4 linked regions of the Homo sapiens genome follow. The protein of the gene in region 2 purifies or fractionates together with the protein of the main gene of each other region. This does not show direct contact. Each region holds a gene or a part of one and is shown on either strand. Other genes may lie near its edges.

Evidence for each region. Proteins that work in one complex are often made in the same cells at the same time.
Region 1: the proteins of ST6GAL1 (region 2) and PLAA purify together in Homo sapiens (affinity purification with mass spectrometry; one large-scale study listed by BioGRID and IntAct). This does not show direct contact.
Region 3: the proteins of ST6GAL1 (region 2) and ZYG11B purify together in Homo sapiens (affinity purification with mass spectrometry; 2 studies listed by BioGRID and IntAct, with this or other methods). This does not show direct contact.
Region 4: the proteins of ST6GAL1 (region 2) and CIP2A purify together in Homo sapiens (affinity purification with mass spectrometry; one large-scale study listed by BioGRID and IntAct). This does not show direct contact.

What each region holds. Positions count from the first base shown.
Region 1 is NC_000009.12:26,905,760-26,909,242, forward strand, and holds part of PLAA (phospholipase A-2-activating protein), read right to left. Parts: intron 2,240-3,483; coding exon 2,075-2,239; intron 318-2,074; coding exon 1-317. UniProt on the Homo sapiens protein: Plays a role in protein ubiquitination, sorting and degradation through its association with VCP. Involved in ubiquitin-mediated membrane proteins trafficking to late endosomes in an ESCRT-dependent manner, and hence plays a role in synaptic vesicle recycling.
Region 2 is NC_000003.12:187,065,355-187,070,800, reverse strand, and holds part of ST6GAL1 (beta-galactoside alpha-2,6-sialyltransferase 1), read right to left. Parts: intron 1-5,446. UniProt on the Homo sapiens protein: Transfers sialic acid from CMP-sialic acid to galactose-containing acceptor substrates. In B lymphocytes, generates neuraminidase-sensitive lymphocyte cell-surface differentiation antigens, such as CDw75, HB-6 and CD76.
Region 3 is NC_000001.11:52,767,953-52,771,750, reverse strand, and holds part of ZYG11B (protein zyg-11 homolog B), read right to left. Parts: intron 732-3,798; coding exon 1-731. UniProt on the Homo sapiens protein: Serves as substrate adapter subunit in the E3 ubiquitin ligase complex ZYG11B-CUL2-Elongin BC. Acts to target substrates bearing N-terminal degrons for proteasomal degradation with the first four residues of substrates being the key recognition elements.
Region 4 is NC_000003.12:108,582,641-108,586,438, forward strand, and holds part of CIP2A (protein CIP2A), read right to left. Parts: intron 2,573-3,798; coding exon 2,425-2,572; intron 444-2,424; coding exon 337-443; intron 1-336.

The DNA.
Region 1 (3,483 bases), on a different chromosome or scaffold from region 2:
AAAACAAACAGAATAGTTCAGGGCCAATGTAGCCAGAGCAATGTGAATGTTCTTATTGCTCCCTGATTTCAGTTCTATTGCATGGGACATCAGTGATTCCCTCTGGGACATCATGAGTTTTTGTCCTGCCTGGCCAACAAAACAATTGCAAAAAGTCCTGAGAGCAAGCAGCTGGTTTGCTGGCTTTCCTTTAGGGTTCAGAAGATTGATAAGATGACTGCTGAACTGAGCCCCTTCCTTTTCATTGCAGAAGTTCTCATTCACACTGGGGTGTTTAATTGACAACCGAAGAATGTCAAGTGCAGGAAAGACAATATCTATTAAAAAAAAAAAGTCATTAATGCTTATGAAAATAAAGAAAATTTCTTTTGACTATCGACTTTGAAGGATTTTATTTTCCCACTGCAAAACTAACCATTTTAGAAAATGTGAAAAATCATGTGTCTGCTTTAAAAAAAATGCATATATTTCTGAAACTTTTGTTAATTTTTCATATTTATATAAACTAGATTTATTGCTGTAAGATCATATTCGCTTTAAAAATAAGGTAACTCTCTCAAACAGCCTACACACTGTGAGTATTCAAAAATGAATGGAAAGAATGGGGTGCAGACTTTGCTTTTAAAAAATTCTGTAAGACCGAACAATTAAACAGGGAAAGTTCTTTTTTTTTTTTTTTTTTTTTTTGAGACAGTTTCACTCCTGTTGCCCAGGCTGGATTGCAATGGCATGATCTCGGCTCACTGCAACCTCCACCTCCCGGGTTCAAGCAATTCTCCTGTCTCAGCCTCCCAAGTAGCTGGAATTACAGGTGCACGTCACCACGCCCAGCTAATTTTTGTATTGTTAGTAGAGACGAGGTTTCATCATATTGGTCAGGCTGGTCTCAAACTCCTGACTTCAGGTGATCTACCCAAGTTGGTCTCCCAAAGTGCTGGGATTACAGGCATGAGCCACCGTGCCCAGCCGGAAAGTTCTTAAGAGAAGAATTCCAGTTAACAAGTGATAGGATGCTTATAGGTTGGTGGGAGCTTTATAATCAAGGGCCTGGGTAGATGCCATCTGAATGAATGCACAAAATAATCTTAGCATCACTAAAGGTGAGGAAATCCAACATTATGTGCTCCGTAATGTAAAAGTAGTATGCATCATCATTTATAAAGGATTTCACCTAAAAAAAAAACACCTACTGAACCAGAATCTAATTTTGCCACTAGCAATAAATACAGAGATGGAGGAACACATCAGCAAAATCCATAATATGGGACATTTTATTGAAAAAAAAAAAAAAAAGACTTTTTCTCCAATAAATCAGTGGCATAAAAAAAAATAACAGGCAAGGACTCTTTGAGAATTAAAAAAGACTTAACTGACATAATTGGAAAAAAAAAAACTTACAGTAAATATTTGTAGCCTAGGGTTAACAGGTCACTAAGAGTATCTTGGATGCCTGGCCAGGAATCCACAAATGCTCTGAAACAGTAAACAAACAGGTGCATGCCCGGGCGCGGTGGCTCACGCCTGTAATCCCAGGCTGAGGCGGGAGGATCACGAGGTCAGGAGATTGAGACCATCCTGGCTAACGTGGTGAAACCCCGTCTCTACTAAAAATACAAAAAATTAGCCGGGCATGGTGGCGGGTGCCTATAGTCCCAGCTACTAAGGAGGCTGAGGCAGGAGAACGGCGTGAACCCGGGAGGCGGAGCTTGCAGTGAGCTTGCAGTGAGCCGAGATCACGCCACTGCACTCCAGCCTGGGCGACAGAGCAAGACTCCATTTCAAAAACAAAAACAAAACAAAACAAAAAAACAAAGAAAACAAACAACAACAACAAAAAAACAAACTGGTGCATATATGGGGATCATATATTACCTTCAGATTCTCAAAAGGCATGTAACGGAAACAAGATCATCAATTCCAGTAGTGTAGTGAACCCTTTTCGTGAAGATTTTCCATAGTGATTTAGAACTACCGAAGTTAACTTTCATTTAATCCACAAATACCAGTAATATTGATAGAAATGAAGATAAAACTTCTTGCTTTCTGGTTACATTTTTGAAGAGTGTTTATTTACCTTCAGGACAGTTAATAGCTTTCCACAAAATCTGAAGTTGCTGGACTGTGGGTTTTTCTGAAGAACTATTACATATTAGAGACAGTATCTTCTCAAGAAGTATCAAGTCATCCTCAGTTAACTTCTTCTCTTCAGGTGCAGTTCCATTAAGTTCCTTCAGTTTACCTAGAACCCAAAACCAAACTTTCAAAATTCTCTAACTGTAATTGGCCAGATAATATATAAATGCCAAGACTTTCAATAAAAGTACTCTAGTGTACACCATGGGGAGTTAAGACTTTACTCAGCAATTATCAAACACCATAAAGTAAGGATAAGGCTTATGAGCTTTGTCTTTTTTTTTTTTTTTTTTGAGATGGAGTCCTGCTCAGTCGCCCAGGCTGGAGTGCAGTGGCGCCATCTTGGCTCACTGCAAGCTCGCCCCCCAGGTTCAAGCAATTCTCCTGCCTCAGCCTCCTGAGTAGCTGGGACTATAGGCGCCTGCCACCATGCCTGGCTAATTTTTTGTGTTTTTAGTAGAGACGGGGTTTCACCACATTAGCCAGGATGGTCTCAATCTCCTGACCTCGTGGTCCACCCTCCTTAGCCTCCCGAAGTGCTGTGATTACAGGTGTGAGCCACCACGCCTGGCCTTATTATTATTATTTTGAGATGGAGTCTCACTCTGTTGCCCAGGCTGGAGTGCAGTGGCATGATCTCGGCTCACTGCAACCTCCGCCATCAGGATTTTCAAGCGATTCTCCTGCCTCAGCCTCCCGAGTAGCTGGAACTACCAGCATGCACCACCACACCAGCTAATTTTTGTATTTTTAGTAGAGATGGGGTTTCACCATGTTGGCCAGGCTGACCAACATGGTGAAAAACTCCTGACCTCAAGTGACCCACCTGCCTTGAACTCCCAAAGTGCTGGCATTACAGGCATGAGCCACCACGTCCGGCCTCCATTTTGGATGACTTTCAAAGCAGTATCATGTGTAATATATATTCAAGTGTAAGTCAATAACCTAGTTTCTCCATGAGAAAATTTATAACAACTTTTTAGCCAATTTATGTCAAATTCTACAGCTGTCAATGAAATAGTCAAAGAGTTAAATGCCTACTGATAACATTTAATTTATGACTTAGTTCCATATGCATATTTGATGTCACATTATTTTAAAAATTTATTTAATGGACATACTGCCCTTTCTTCCCATGTTCTCATTTCATGAAACAATTTCCTTCAAATCCTTCGCATGTATCTTTAGTATCAGTATCCTTTGTATCATGACTTTGAGTTACTGTGTTTCTTTAAAAATCTTTATCTCAAGAATAAAAAAGTCCAAATTCCGATAATAAGGAAAATTATCCAAATTTACACCATTGAAATCAATTATAAATGGAAACTAGGGCCTGTTTCACTAATCTCA
Region 2 (5,446 bases):
ATTGAACAATGGTTAACACGCTGTGATGGTGCAACAACAGAGGTAGTATGAGGATGGCCATAAAGTGAGCGAGTGTTGGGCCGGGTGCGGTGGCTCACACCTGTAATCCCAGCACTTTGGGAGGCCGAGGCGGGTGGATCACAAGGTCAAGAGATTGAGACCATCCTGGCCAACATGGTGAAACCCCGTCTCTACTGAAAATACAAACATTAGCCGGGCATGGTGGCGGGTGCCTGTAGTCCCAGCTACTCGGGAGGCTGAGGCAGGAGAATCACTTGAACCCAGGAGGCGGAGGTTGCCGTGAGCCAAGATTGCACCACTGCACTCCAGCCTGGCAACAGTGAGACTCCATCTCGAAAAAAAAAAAAAAAAAAAAGAGCAAGTGTTAGGGGGCAAAAAAGAAGATGCCAAGCAGAGACTGTAAGCATGAGAGAGGGGGTGTCTGAGACACGGGGAACCACGTGCAAACCCCTGAATGTGTGAGTGTGTGGCAGAGACTGCCAGATGTTACCCAGCATCCATTCGCTATTTCTTCCTTGACCACCAACACCTCTGGTTTTTACTTTTGCACATGGCAACCTAAAATAGACTCCCTGAAATAAAAAAATTTCATAGCCTCTCTTATAGATAAATATGGCTGGGTGACTAATTCTGGCCAATGGAATGTAAGCAAGTGTGGCTTCCAGGAACTATCCTTAGAGGCAAGGTTATGCCTTTCCTTGTTCCTTCTTCCTCCTGGCTGAAATGTGGATGTGATGGCTGGAGCTTGAGCAGTCATTTTGGACCATAAAGTGGAAGTCATATGCTGAGAACGGCAAACCCACAAAGTAGAAAGAACTTGGATTCTGACACTGGAACACCATATTAAGTTTGGAATGTCTACTTTTGGACTTCTTTTGCATGAGAGAGAAATGCATTTTTTGTTTTGTTAAGCTAGTGTGGGGGGATGTGTGTTCCTGTCTCTTGCAGGAACAACTAGTACAGTGTGTACCCTGTTTGGGAATTGCAAGTAGTTCAGTATGGCTAGGATACAGAGAAAGAGCTGGAAGAGATCAGAGAAATGTAGACAGAGGCCAAGCCAGGGAGCTTAGGATTTCTTCAGTAGGTTATGGGGACCAGGAAAGGGTTTTAAGTAAGGAAGATCTAAACATGCTAGAGTTCTGAATTAGTGTTTTTAGAAAAAAGAAGACCACAAAGAAGCTCCTGTTGTCACCTAAGAAATAATGGAGTAAAGAAAAGAAGTTACAATTGTCGGCTGTAGATGTGAAGACTAATTGAATGTTGAGAGTGAGGGAAAAAGGGGACCAAGGGGACTCCTGGACCTCAGGCCATTTCCTGCATAAGAACAGAGAAAAAGGAACAACTGGTATATGCCTGTGGGAGTAAGGTGGGGTGGAAATTTGAAGTTCAAGGATGAGGGCTGGGCTCACTTGAGGTCAGGAGTTCAAGACCAGCCTGGCCAACATGGCGAAACCCTGTCTCTACCAAAAATACAAAAATTAGCCAGGCGTGGTGGCAAGCACCTGTAATCCCAGCTACTTGGAAGGCTGAGGCAGGCGAATAGCTTGAACTCAGGAGGCAGAGGTTGCAGTGAGCCAAGATCGTGCCACTGCACTCTAGCCTGGCGACAGAGCGAGACTCCGTCTTGAGAAAAAAAAAAAAAAAGAAGAAGTTCAAGGATGAGACTACTGGCCAGGAGTTCCCTGGCTGACAGGCCATAAGAACTAAGAACAGAACCCACATCTTGTAACTTTTAAGTACTGTCCTCCTTCCACTGGGAACGTTGTAACTTAACAACAGCCCTTCAGGTCTATAGTCCAAGGGCAGAGCAGGCTTCCTGCTAGATGGGGATTTGTAAGATAGACGTGACTGAGCTGGTGACAGGGAGGCCTGAGGACAGAGGGCCAGTACTCCCTATCCTCATCCACCCTATTCCCCTGAAAACAGCTGTTATATTAAAAGCAAAGTGTCTTTTCTTTAGCTATGCTTCTTTCTATGCAGAGTACTGATGCCAGGTGATATATACATACTCATGAGGAATAGCAATAACTGGGATTTTTAAAAAATGTCTCCCCCTGCTATAGCCCCTTTCCAGCAATTTTGAGTATGCAAAGCAGGAGGCCAGCAACTCCTGGCTCCCTGAGACTTTCCCAGCTGTGGCTTCACCGTCCTCAGAAATTCCAAGAGATGCACGAAGCTTTCTTCTTTACAATATGTGAAAACAACAGACACCATTTAATGATGCTTACTACATGCTAGGTACTGTCATACCTCAACTCAGTTTATCTTCACAACAGCCCTAGGAAGTAAGTGTTAATATGTTCATTTTATGATTAAAGAAATAGAGATGCTAAATGCTAAGTAACTTGTCCAAATTACACAGTCAGTAAGTAAGAGAGTCTGAATTGGATTCTTAGGTCTAGCTCCAGAGACCACACTTCTTTTTTTTTTTTTTTTTTGAGATGGAGTCTCGCTCTGTTGCCCAGGCTGGAGTGCAGTGGCACGATCTTGGCTCACTGCAACCTCCGCCACCCAGGTTCAAGTGATTCTCCTGCCTCAGCCTCCCAAGTAGCTGGTACGACAGACATGTGCCACCACACCCAGCTAATTTTTTGTATTTTTAGTAGAGATGGGGTTTCACTGTGTTAGCCAGGATGGTCTTGATCTCCTGACCTCGTGATCCACCTGCCTCGGCCTCCCAAAGTGTTGGGATTACAGGCATGAGCCACCACACCCGGCCCAGAGACCACACTTCTAACCTATGTGCTATAATGCCTCACATAATGTGGGCAGGGTAGGGTACCACAGCTCTTGGGGAAGGACGTCAGAGAACACTGGATAGGAGTATGGAGTGTCAGGAGAATTTGCTTCTTGCCTGAGTTGTAGTATGTCACAGCTGGATGATACTCAAGGTATTAAATTCAGACCCATCATTTTCCAGATGGGTAAACTGAGGCCCAGAGAGACAAGAGAATTGTCTAAGGCTACGATGAGTTTGTGGCACAGTTAGAACCAGAGCCCAGAGGCAGGCTCCTAACAGATATTCTTTCTGCTCCAGCAGGACTACACCCATAAAACCATCAGACATTCAAATAAGCAAGCACACCATGAGGGTCAGGTCACCCTCAGTCTTCCTGTATCCAATGGAAAAACAGCCATTCACTTGAGCTACTTGAGATGAATGAGACAGTAATCCATGAAAATAGAAACAGGTGAAGATGAATGATAGTTTTATCCAGAGAAGAGAAACAGAAAGTGGCTGGGGCTGGGATCTGGTTGAGGGATAAGGGAGAAGCCAGCAAGCACTCCCCTCCTGGAACTTTACACATGGCTCTGAACTCACCCACATTAACACCATCTATATGAAGTTCAAAGATTTTCTACCAAAAAAAAAAAAAAAAAAAAAGGTTGCCTTGCCAGGTGCAGTGGCTCACACCTGTAATCCCAGCACTTTGGGAAGCTGAGGTGGGCAGATCACTTGAGGTCAGGAGTTCGAGATCACCCTGGCCAACATAGTAAAACCTCGTCTCTACTAAAAATACAAAAATTAGCCAGGCGTGGTGGCGGGCACCTGAAATCTCAGCTACTCAGAAGGCTGAGGCAGGAGAATCGCTTGAACCCCGGAGGCAGAGGTTGCAGTGAGCCAAGATCGCACCACTGCACTCCAGCCTGGGTGACAGAGACTCTGTCTCCAAAAAAAAAAAAAAAAAAAAAAAAAAGAAAGAAAGAAAGAAAAGAAGATTGCCTTAAAACTGGATGGGGAATTGGAAGCATGGGTTCCAGTCCTGCTCTGTGTCTAACTCACTCCATGGTATTAGATGGACCATGTCACATCTCCTGGCCTCAGGTGCCTTATTTAGACATAACCACCTTGTAAGGCCCTGCTGAGGGGACCAGCTGTTCCTGGAAGAATAAAGCTGTTCTCAAACGCCTGTACTTACCTGCAGGGGGAGTGTGACCTGGGTTTGGAGATCCTCTTAGGGGGCAGGGGAGGAGTTCATGCTGAGAATAAGTCATTGGCAGAGCAGCAGAGCCCTGGGGAACATCTGCCAGGAAAAGGCTACACCAGGGCATGGAGTGCTGCTGCTCAAGACACTGTTTAAAGTAACCTTCTCAGTTAGAAAGTAACAAATACTCACTGGGGACAGTTAGAAAATGCAAGAATAGAAACACACACACACACACACACACACACACACGCACGCACGCACATCTTCAGATATTACCACTGTGCATATTTTGGACTTTTTTCTTCTCAAATCTGTTTTCCCTCTGTTATAGACTGAATTGTGTGCCCCCAGAATTCCTATGTTGAAGCCCTAATCCCTAATGTGACTAATACCCTGTTTGGAAATAGGGCTGTGAGGGAGGTAATTAGGATTAAATGTGTCATGTGGTGGGGCCCTAATCCAATGGGGCCAGTGTCCTTACAACAAGAAGAGACCCGCAGAGCTCTCTCTTTCCACCACGCACAGAGGAAAAGCCATGTGAAGACACAGCCTGAAGGCATCCTTTCTCTGATTCGGAGAACTAGTGACTGAGACTGTGTCTGCTGGCCCAAATCAAGAAGCCCCAGAACTCATGATTGCCATCATGATTAAATTTTAGCTCCAATTATGATATTAATAGACTGTATGGCAGGGGTTCCATCAAAATCACCCAGCTCACCATCGCTGGTTTTAGACCCGTTGTTGATGGAAATCTCGCCCACCTCCCACCCGCCCTGCCAACCCATCCAGATACCTGTCTTTCAGTATCTTGAGAAGAAAAGTTGGAGCTTCCAGAAAGCTTTGGTGATTTAAAGTGCTGGTGGCAAACACCTAGAACCAAATCCCACCTCTGTCGCTTACTTTCTGGGCTCCTGTGAGCAACTTAAACTCTGGGAGCCTGAGTTCTGAGGTAAAATGGTGGTTGGTGGTCATACCTCACAGGGTTTGCCATGAAGATCAAATGAGAGAAGGCATGTAAGACCCTTAGATGGTATATATAATATATTTAACAAATGGCATCAACTATTATTTCAAGATAAGCCCCACTGAGTAATCTGGAAATGTCCTGGTTGCAGTCCAGTCAGTGTGGACTGTTGCTAGGCATATAGGAAGTAGGTCTTCTCTCTCCAGCTAGCACAAAAGCTTCCAAGGAAGCCACTGGGTCTTCTTGTCCCATTGTCTCCTCTCTCAGGCCCACAGGGTACAGGAGGTACTGAGTTGAGTCTCACAGAAACCTTCTTACTCTTATAGTCAAAACTGCATTTATTTAAAGACCTGTCCATTTACATATATCATTTTTCCTGTTGACTCTCATAGCCACACCTGGCACAGAAGTGTCACATGCCTGACTAGGTCTGCTGGCCTGAAACCTAACAGTATGACACCATTCTCTATAAAAAGCCACCTTCTCAATAAGAAAAGTGCCTTTTTTGTTTTGCATGCCTTCATCATGGCCA
Region 3 (3,798 bases), on a different chromosome or scaffold from region 2:
GAATTCAGAGTAACCAGCATCAGTAGCCAGCAAACCTACAAATTGCATGCTTGGACGTTGTTGTATAAAGGCTTCAACGGCTTTATCTGTCACGTGCTTTCTCCCAGAAACATCCAGAGAAACAAGGTTAGGTAGGATGTCTTTTTGTTCTAGTAAGCGAAGAGCTATGTCTGATGTAAACTGTTTATCATCTGAGATATCAAGATGATTCAGATGTTTGAGTTCCCGAACTACATCCAGTATCTGGGTAGTTGTCATTTTTAAACATTTCAAGTGGTGCATGGTTAGAGACTTGAGTCGGTCTTTGCAGGCCAGTAGAGCAGTGATGTCTGTGATTGAGGTGTTAGAAATATCCAAGCTCTCTAATCTTGGCAATGAGGCAACTTCAGCCAGGTCTTCATTGTAAAAGAGAACATTCGTGATGCTTAAAGCTCGAAGGCCAGAAAGCCGGCTGAAGCAGCGCTCGTAAGGATCCTCGAGGGAGAGAGTTAATGAATTCAGCACCAGGCACTGGAGATTCTGCTGGATCCATTTGTTACTGCCAAGCCCACTGATAATGTCTGTAATCGTGATATCAGCATTCACACCTGTGGCATCAAGTTCCACTAACTTGTGGTGGCAGAAAGCTTTCCGGAAAGCAACAGCAGAGATCTTTGCTTTGCGAATGCAGGCTCGCTTTAAGCGCATCTGGTTGCCCCTAAAAATACCCACAGTTCCATCATTCAATAGACCTGTGGAAAAACAAGCAGCGTTTTAAATTCAAAAAACAGTTAAAGAATAGCCAAAATTTCCATCACACTTTACATTTCCAAAGCGCTCCCATGTAACAGTATCTCGTCTGATAATCACAATTCATTTAGGTGAGATTATTATTGTTTACAACTTGTAGATGAGTAAACTGGGGCTCAGAGAGTGGCTTTCCAAGATCACAGGGCTAGCAAGTGGCAGAATCAGGACTGTGGCAGACATTATTGATATCCACTAACATCTAGTTCTTACCTTACCAGACAACTACATTTCCCAGCCCATCCCTGGAGTTAGCTGGAGCCATGTGCCTAGTTCTGGCCAATGCACTATATGTTGAAGCACCTGAGAGCCAGTGCATGATTTTCCATGCTGTCTTTTCCTGCTATGACAAACGAGGAGACTTCACGTTCTAGAGAGTATAGTTATATGAGGAGAAACCCTCCATCAGTTTGGACCCTAGGGTGACCATGAAGCAGAATCCTCTATGGACTTGCAGAGTTTATGTACCACAAGTGAGGTATAAACCTTGTGTTAAGGTATTTGATTTGTTACCAATACATTTCTAGCCTATCCTTTAAATTCACCTTAACATATTATTATACAAACACATATACACATAATATATTTAGCATGCACTTAATGCCTTGTAATTCATTAATAAACCACTAGCCAGATCTCAAACCTTATTAAAGCGATCTAGGCCTGGGAAACATAGCAAGACCCCATCTCTGCAAAATAACTGAAAACGAGTTGGGCACAGTGGTCATGCCTATAGTCCTAGCTACTAGGGAGGCTGAGATGGAAGGATCATTTGAGCCCAGGAGTTTGTGGTTATAGTGAATTATGATTGCACCATTGCACACCAGCCTGGGTGACAGAGTGAGAACCTGTCTCTGAAAAAAAAAAAAAAATATATATATATATATATATAGTAGTTACAGCTTCCCCCCACACTCCCCCTCCTGCAGATGAATGTAAATGAAGTCGACACAGTAACCTCTTGAAGTGCCTTCGAGATCTACCTGTCTACCAATCAACAGTGTCACAAGCATATGATACTCTGGAGGCACATCAACATATCACATATCAACTAAACAACATTGACTGTGAAAGAAGTAACAATCATGCCAAAAACAGGTAGTCTAAGAATAGTATGGGGTGAATGAGCAGTTGAGGACAGGTAAATAAATAGCCTGAAGTCATGAGAGGAACTCTAAGGCGGCATCTTAGCTGGCCCATACTCAAAATGCAGCTAGGCTGCCAGCCAGTCACCCTTAAATTAGAAATGAGGTGTTTTTAAAAGGGAGCACTATTCTCTAATGAGTTTTGCAGACTTAATTACAGTTACACAGTTAAAATCAAGAAAGGCCTGTGCAAAACCTGCCAAAGTGGACAAAAATGACTAATTACATATTAAGAACTCCATTACATTTTAGAGCTGTGCTGCCCAATACATAGTCACTAGCTCCACACAGCTGGAGAGCACTTGGAAAGCAGGTGGTACAAAGTGAGGTCAGCTATAAAGTACAAAATATACACCAGATTGTGAAGACTTAATACAACAAAATAATGTAAAGTATCTCAATTTTTTATATATACTACAGGTTGAAATGATCATTTTTTAATATATTGGGTTAAATAAAAATTATTAAAACTCGTTGCACTTGTTTTTCTTTTTATTTTTTTATGTGGCCACCGGTAAATTTAAAATTACATTTCGATTAAACAATGTAGTTCTAGAGACAGCCTTTCAAATTACCTGCACTCTATTTCAGGAGAGTAAATTTCATGATGGGGTCCATTCAGCAAACAGTTTATTAAACAATTACTATATGTCAAGTACTCTAAATGTTGTAGATACAAAGAAAAATAAGATATGCCCCTATAGTCAAAGGATTCATAATCCCATGGAGTAAAAAAGACACAAACAGCCATAACAAAATGAGATATATGGTATATCAATGTCAAGTATAAAGTATCACAAAAACAAAGAAAAGGAAGTAAACCATCATGAATGAAGATCTGGAAAAGATTTGATGGGAGAGGTGATCTTTGAGTAAGGCCTTTGAAAATGCTGGAAGAATTCAAAGATAGAGAAAGGAGGTTAGTAGGCCAGGTGCAGTGGCTCATGCCTATAATGCCAGCATTTTGGGAGGCCGAGGCGGATGGATCACCTGAGGCCAGGAATTCGAGACCAGCCTGGCCAACGTGGCAAAACCGCGTTTCTACTAAAAATGCAAAAATTAAATGGGTGTGGTGGTGCGCGCCTGTAATACCAGCTACTTGGGAGGTTGAGGCAGAGAATCACTCGAACTTGGGAGGCGGAGGCTGCAGTGAGCCGAGATGGCGCCACTGCACTCCAGCCTGGGCGTCAGAGCAAGACTCCATTTCAAAAAAAAAAAAAAAAGAGGAAGAAGGTTAGGTATATTAAAGCAAGAATATACAACATAAGCAAAGTCTTAAAGATGTGAAAGCATATCACGGGGTTAGGAAATGGCAAGTAGTTCTTTCTATATTGCTTGAACATAAGAAATAGCTAGAGCCATAGATGCAGTGCATTTCTGGGGATATAAGCATGCAAATGGGACAGAAGAAATGAGGCTGAAGGTGAGCTGGAGCTAGATCACTCTGAAAGGTGAAGAGATGAAAGCAGATCAGCTAGGGGGGACCTTGGGACCCATGGAACAACGCAGAAAAGTTCCTGGTTTTTTTCTGGTCATATATCCCAGATCTAAAGTTGAAGGAGCCAGCAGCCTGGAAACACCAATGGGCACAGACAAAAACCTCCCCCAAAATCTGCTCTCTCTAGCCAACGTACCAGGAAAGCAGCAACTAGTAAGACAGGAAACAGCTAGTAGACAGTAACTGCTCTACTTCAGCCAAACACGACAGAAAAAACTGCAGCTCCACCCATGCCAGCAAATGCCAATAGGGGCCTAGATTTCTACCCCTGCCAGGCTGTAATTACTTGCCCCAATCTGCCCACAGGGGAGGTGTTAGAGAAGTCTGAGTAGAGAGCAAGGACTTTCATTCCTGCTGGGTAGTAAGAAC
Region 4 (3,798 bases), about 78 Mb from region 2:
TTCCTCCACAGATTGAGACTAGATGCCAACTCACGTTACAATTTTAATATAAATAGCTTATGTCTCAAAACACAGACATCTGTGTTTATAAGTCAAAGCAGTTATAATGTAGATTTGTTTTTCTTCAATAGTGGTGATAGAAATGGATAAGCTTCTCTTCTCTAGAAACATTTAAATTGTATGTGTGCAACCAGCTTTTAATGAGATGAACTGTGCCTAATCATGTAGTATTTATTATATAGCATATATACACTGTAAGTCAGCAGTTTATGACAGAAACTATCAATTTTGATCTGACAGTAAGGAAAGGGGAATACACTGTGTGGGTCTGTATACCTGCAAAAACACCGAATCAGTGTGGCTGCTCCGACAAACCACTCCCGCCAGCACACTATTCAGATTATATGTATTCTGAAGACAATCTCTGGTTTCAATGTCTACTGCTATAAGTTAAAATAAAAGCACAAAATATATCATTTTCTTACAAGGTTTTGCAGATAATTCATACAGAATTTATTTCATATGAATTTATTATTAAAAAAGGTATGATATGGCTATTTTCTTATTTTCTTTATGATAACCCTCCAATTCAGAAATTCAAATGATTTCTCTATGTAAAATAAACTAGTATCAAAGAAAAAACTTGTTTACACATTTGTAGCAAGCTTTTTCTTTGATACTAATTATTTTAGTATCAAATTAAAATCATTTACTTTGAATATTAAAAGATTATCACTTTATGGTATATTTACACAATGGAATACTATTTGGCCATATAAAAGAATGCATGCCATTTGCAGCAACACGGATGGAACTGAAGGCCATTAGGTTAAGTGAAATAAGCCAGACACAGAAAGAAAAATATTGCATGTATTCATTCATGTGTAGGAGCTAAAAAAGTTGATCTCATGGAAGTGGAGAATGACAGTTACCAGAGGCTGGGAAGAATATGGGTGAGTGTGTGGTGATGGGAGGTGTGAGGGGGAGCCGTTAGTGGGGGAGATGAAGACAGATTGATTAATGGATATAAACACACAATCAGATGGAATAAGTTCTAATGTTTGATAGTAGAGTAAGGTGACTATAGTTAACAATGTATTGTATATTTCAAAATATGACTTGAAATGTTCTAAATACATAGAAATGATAAATCCTCATTTGTGATGGATATCCTAAATACCCTCAATTGATCATCACATACTTTATGCAGGTAACAAAATATCATATGTACCCCATAAGTTTGTATAAATATTATGTATCTGTGAAAAAATTAATTTAAAAAGATTATCATTTCAATTTTTCTGGAAACCTCAAATGCTTCTAAAGTATAAACACTGGAAGTGACTGGCATATTCATTCAAACTGTTGGTGGATGTTAGAAGTGGAAGAATCTTTTCAGAAAGCAATTTAGTAACGGTTATCAAATTTTAGAATGATCTAGAAATTCTAATGGAATTTATCTAATAGAAACACACTAATATTTGAGCAAAATTACATAGAATGTTCACTGCACTATTGATTCCAATAGCAAAAACTTAAAGACAGTTGACTGTCCACTATTAGGGGAATAGTTGAATAAATTACAGTACCCTGTAATTAAGGCACTAGGCAGCTATTAAAGATACTGATATGGAAAGAAACATCTGGTGCTCCACAACACCATTTGTGCTGAAAACAACCAATTAAAGATCCAAAAGTATTGTTTTGTTACAGCACAGAAAAATATCTGCAAAGAAACATACCAAACCATTAAATGAGATTATACCCTCAAAGCTGAAAAGATGAGGGCTGGTGGTAATGGGTACAGGCTCACCCCATTTTACTCTATGTCTGGGCTGTCTAATTTGGTAGCCACTAGCCTTCATGTGGCTATTTCAATTTAGATTAATTAAAATTAAAGATTCAGTTCCTTAGTCTATTACCCACACTTCGAATGCTTAATAGCTCCATGTGGCTAGTGGCTGCTACATTGGATAACACAGTTTTAAAACCATTCTGTCACTGAAGAAAGTTTTATTGGACAATGCTGCTCTGTGTTAATACTTCTGGATCACTAGAATTTTTTAAACTATGCATATATTACTATTATAATCACACAAAGAAATATCCCCACCGCCCTGCCCCAAATTGGAGTAGTGACCACTAAATGAACATTTAAGAACTAAAGAAATGGGGGAAAAGATAGAAAAAGCAACATCAGTACTTTTACCCTTTAGTTCTAAATTCAGTGTAATCTATTACAGAAGGATCATTCTTTGATCGGTAGCTATGACTTCCTCAGTGTCAAAAGATTCACAATGCACACTAGACTGAGAAGTCTTTGAAGGTGAATCATTCTTTAAGAGATTCTATAACTAAGCCTGCACTTTAAAATATTGTTCATACATCTTCCAAAAACTAAAAAGGAGAAATTAAATGCATTACCTAGTTGAGACAGCAAACCGATAATACTTAAGATCAGTGAAGCACTTATGTTGGGGTCTTCAAGTAGCTCTACAAGGCAACTCAAGCATTCACTTGTTAATATCTGATTTGATGTAAATAGTCGTGTGAGTTTCTGTCCAGAAATTACCTATAAAATAGTAATCAAAATGTGTTGGTTAAGCGATGGCAATTTTCATCTCTTCTCCATTTCAAATAAAAAACTCAGTTCCCTCAAAGTGCCACTGCTACCTTCCCAATTTAAAAAATTCACACATGCTGTGAAAAATTCACCCCTGCCTAGAGTACCCATCAATTACCTAATCCCTCCCTCCCTAGCTAAAGTAATCATTTGGATCTCAGTTTAAAATAATTTCCACCAGGAAGCTTTTCTTAGTTTCTTATACCATCTCAGTTCGGTCGGCCTATTATGCTATCCTATAGTACATTATATTTCTATTTCCTAAGTTAGCAAACTTTTGAGTTCCTAGCAATATTTCTCCTTCACACTACATTGAACATGCGATGAAGGCATAGCCTACAAATCTGCACTCTAGTACCAATATATTTACTATGCAAATAAATTCTAATACATTCTACTTACTTTGAGGGAGGAGAATGAAAAATGAAGCCCAGAGGGTAGTTATGGGATTATTCCTTCTGCTTCTTCCCAAAGACAATAGGTGAGCTCAGAAGTTAAGGGATTAAAGAAGGAAGTGAAAAGTGAATCTTTTTTTAAGTAGCCAGGCAAGGCATTGAAAAATTTTATTTCTGATTATTCCATTGTTTTTTTTACTTTCTTGTAATCTATAAGCCACATACACGCATGCACAGACACATACATACACACACACACACACAGAGTGAAAGAGAGAAGAGAGGAGGTAAAGCTGGAACTAAAGGCCAAAAGCAGTTGTCTCAAAGCATGAATTTTCAACATACTTTATGGATGTATTTATTACAAAGCATATCTTTTCTACAAAGATGGCAAAACCATTAGTTACCTTAGAATAAGACTAACTCTGTCCTGAATACTTATTTTAATAAGATCAAGCCTAAGCAGGCTGCTTTAGCATCCCTCTAATCTTTCCTTTCTGTATCCTCCCTTTATTCTCTCACCCACATCAGTTTTTCTTCTAAGGCTTTGCTGATAAGAGTTTCACATTATCTGTTCCCAAGGAGTGTTTTAACATTACTAAAGTAAAAGTCTATACAAGAAAAAATAAGTCCAAATATGAAAGTGCAGATGCCAGTAACAGATATTCTGGGGTAGGAAATACTGTGGGCATTACCCTGTTGCTTATTTATAAATCTAGCTCTCCAGAATAAGACACTTGCTGTTTTAAAAATGATTCTCTATAGGATTGGTCCTGTATC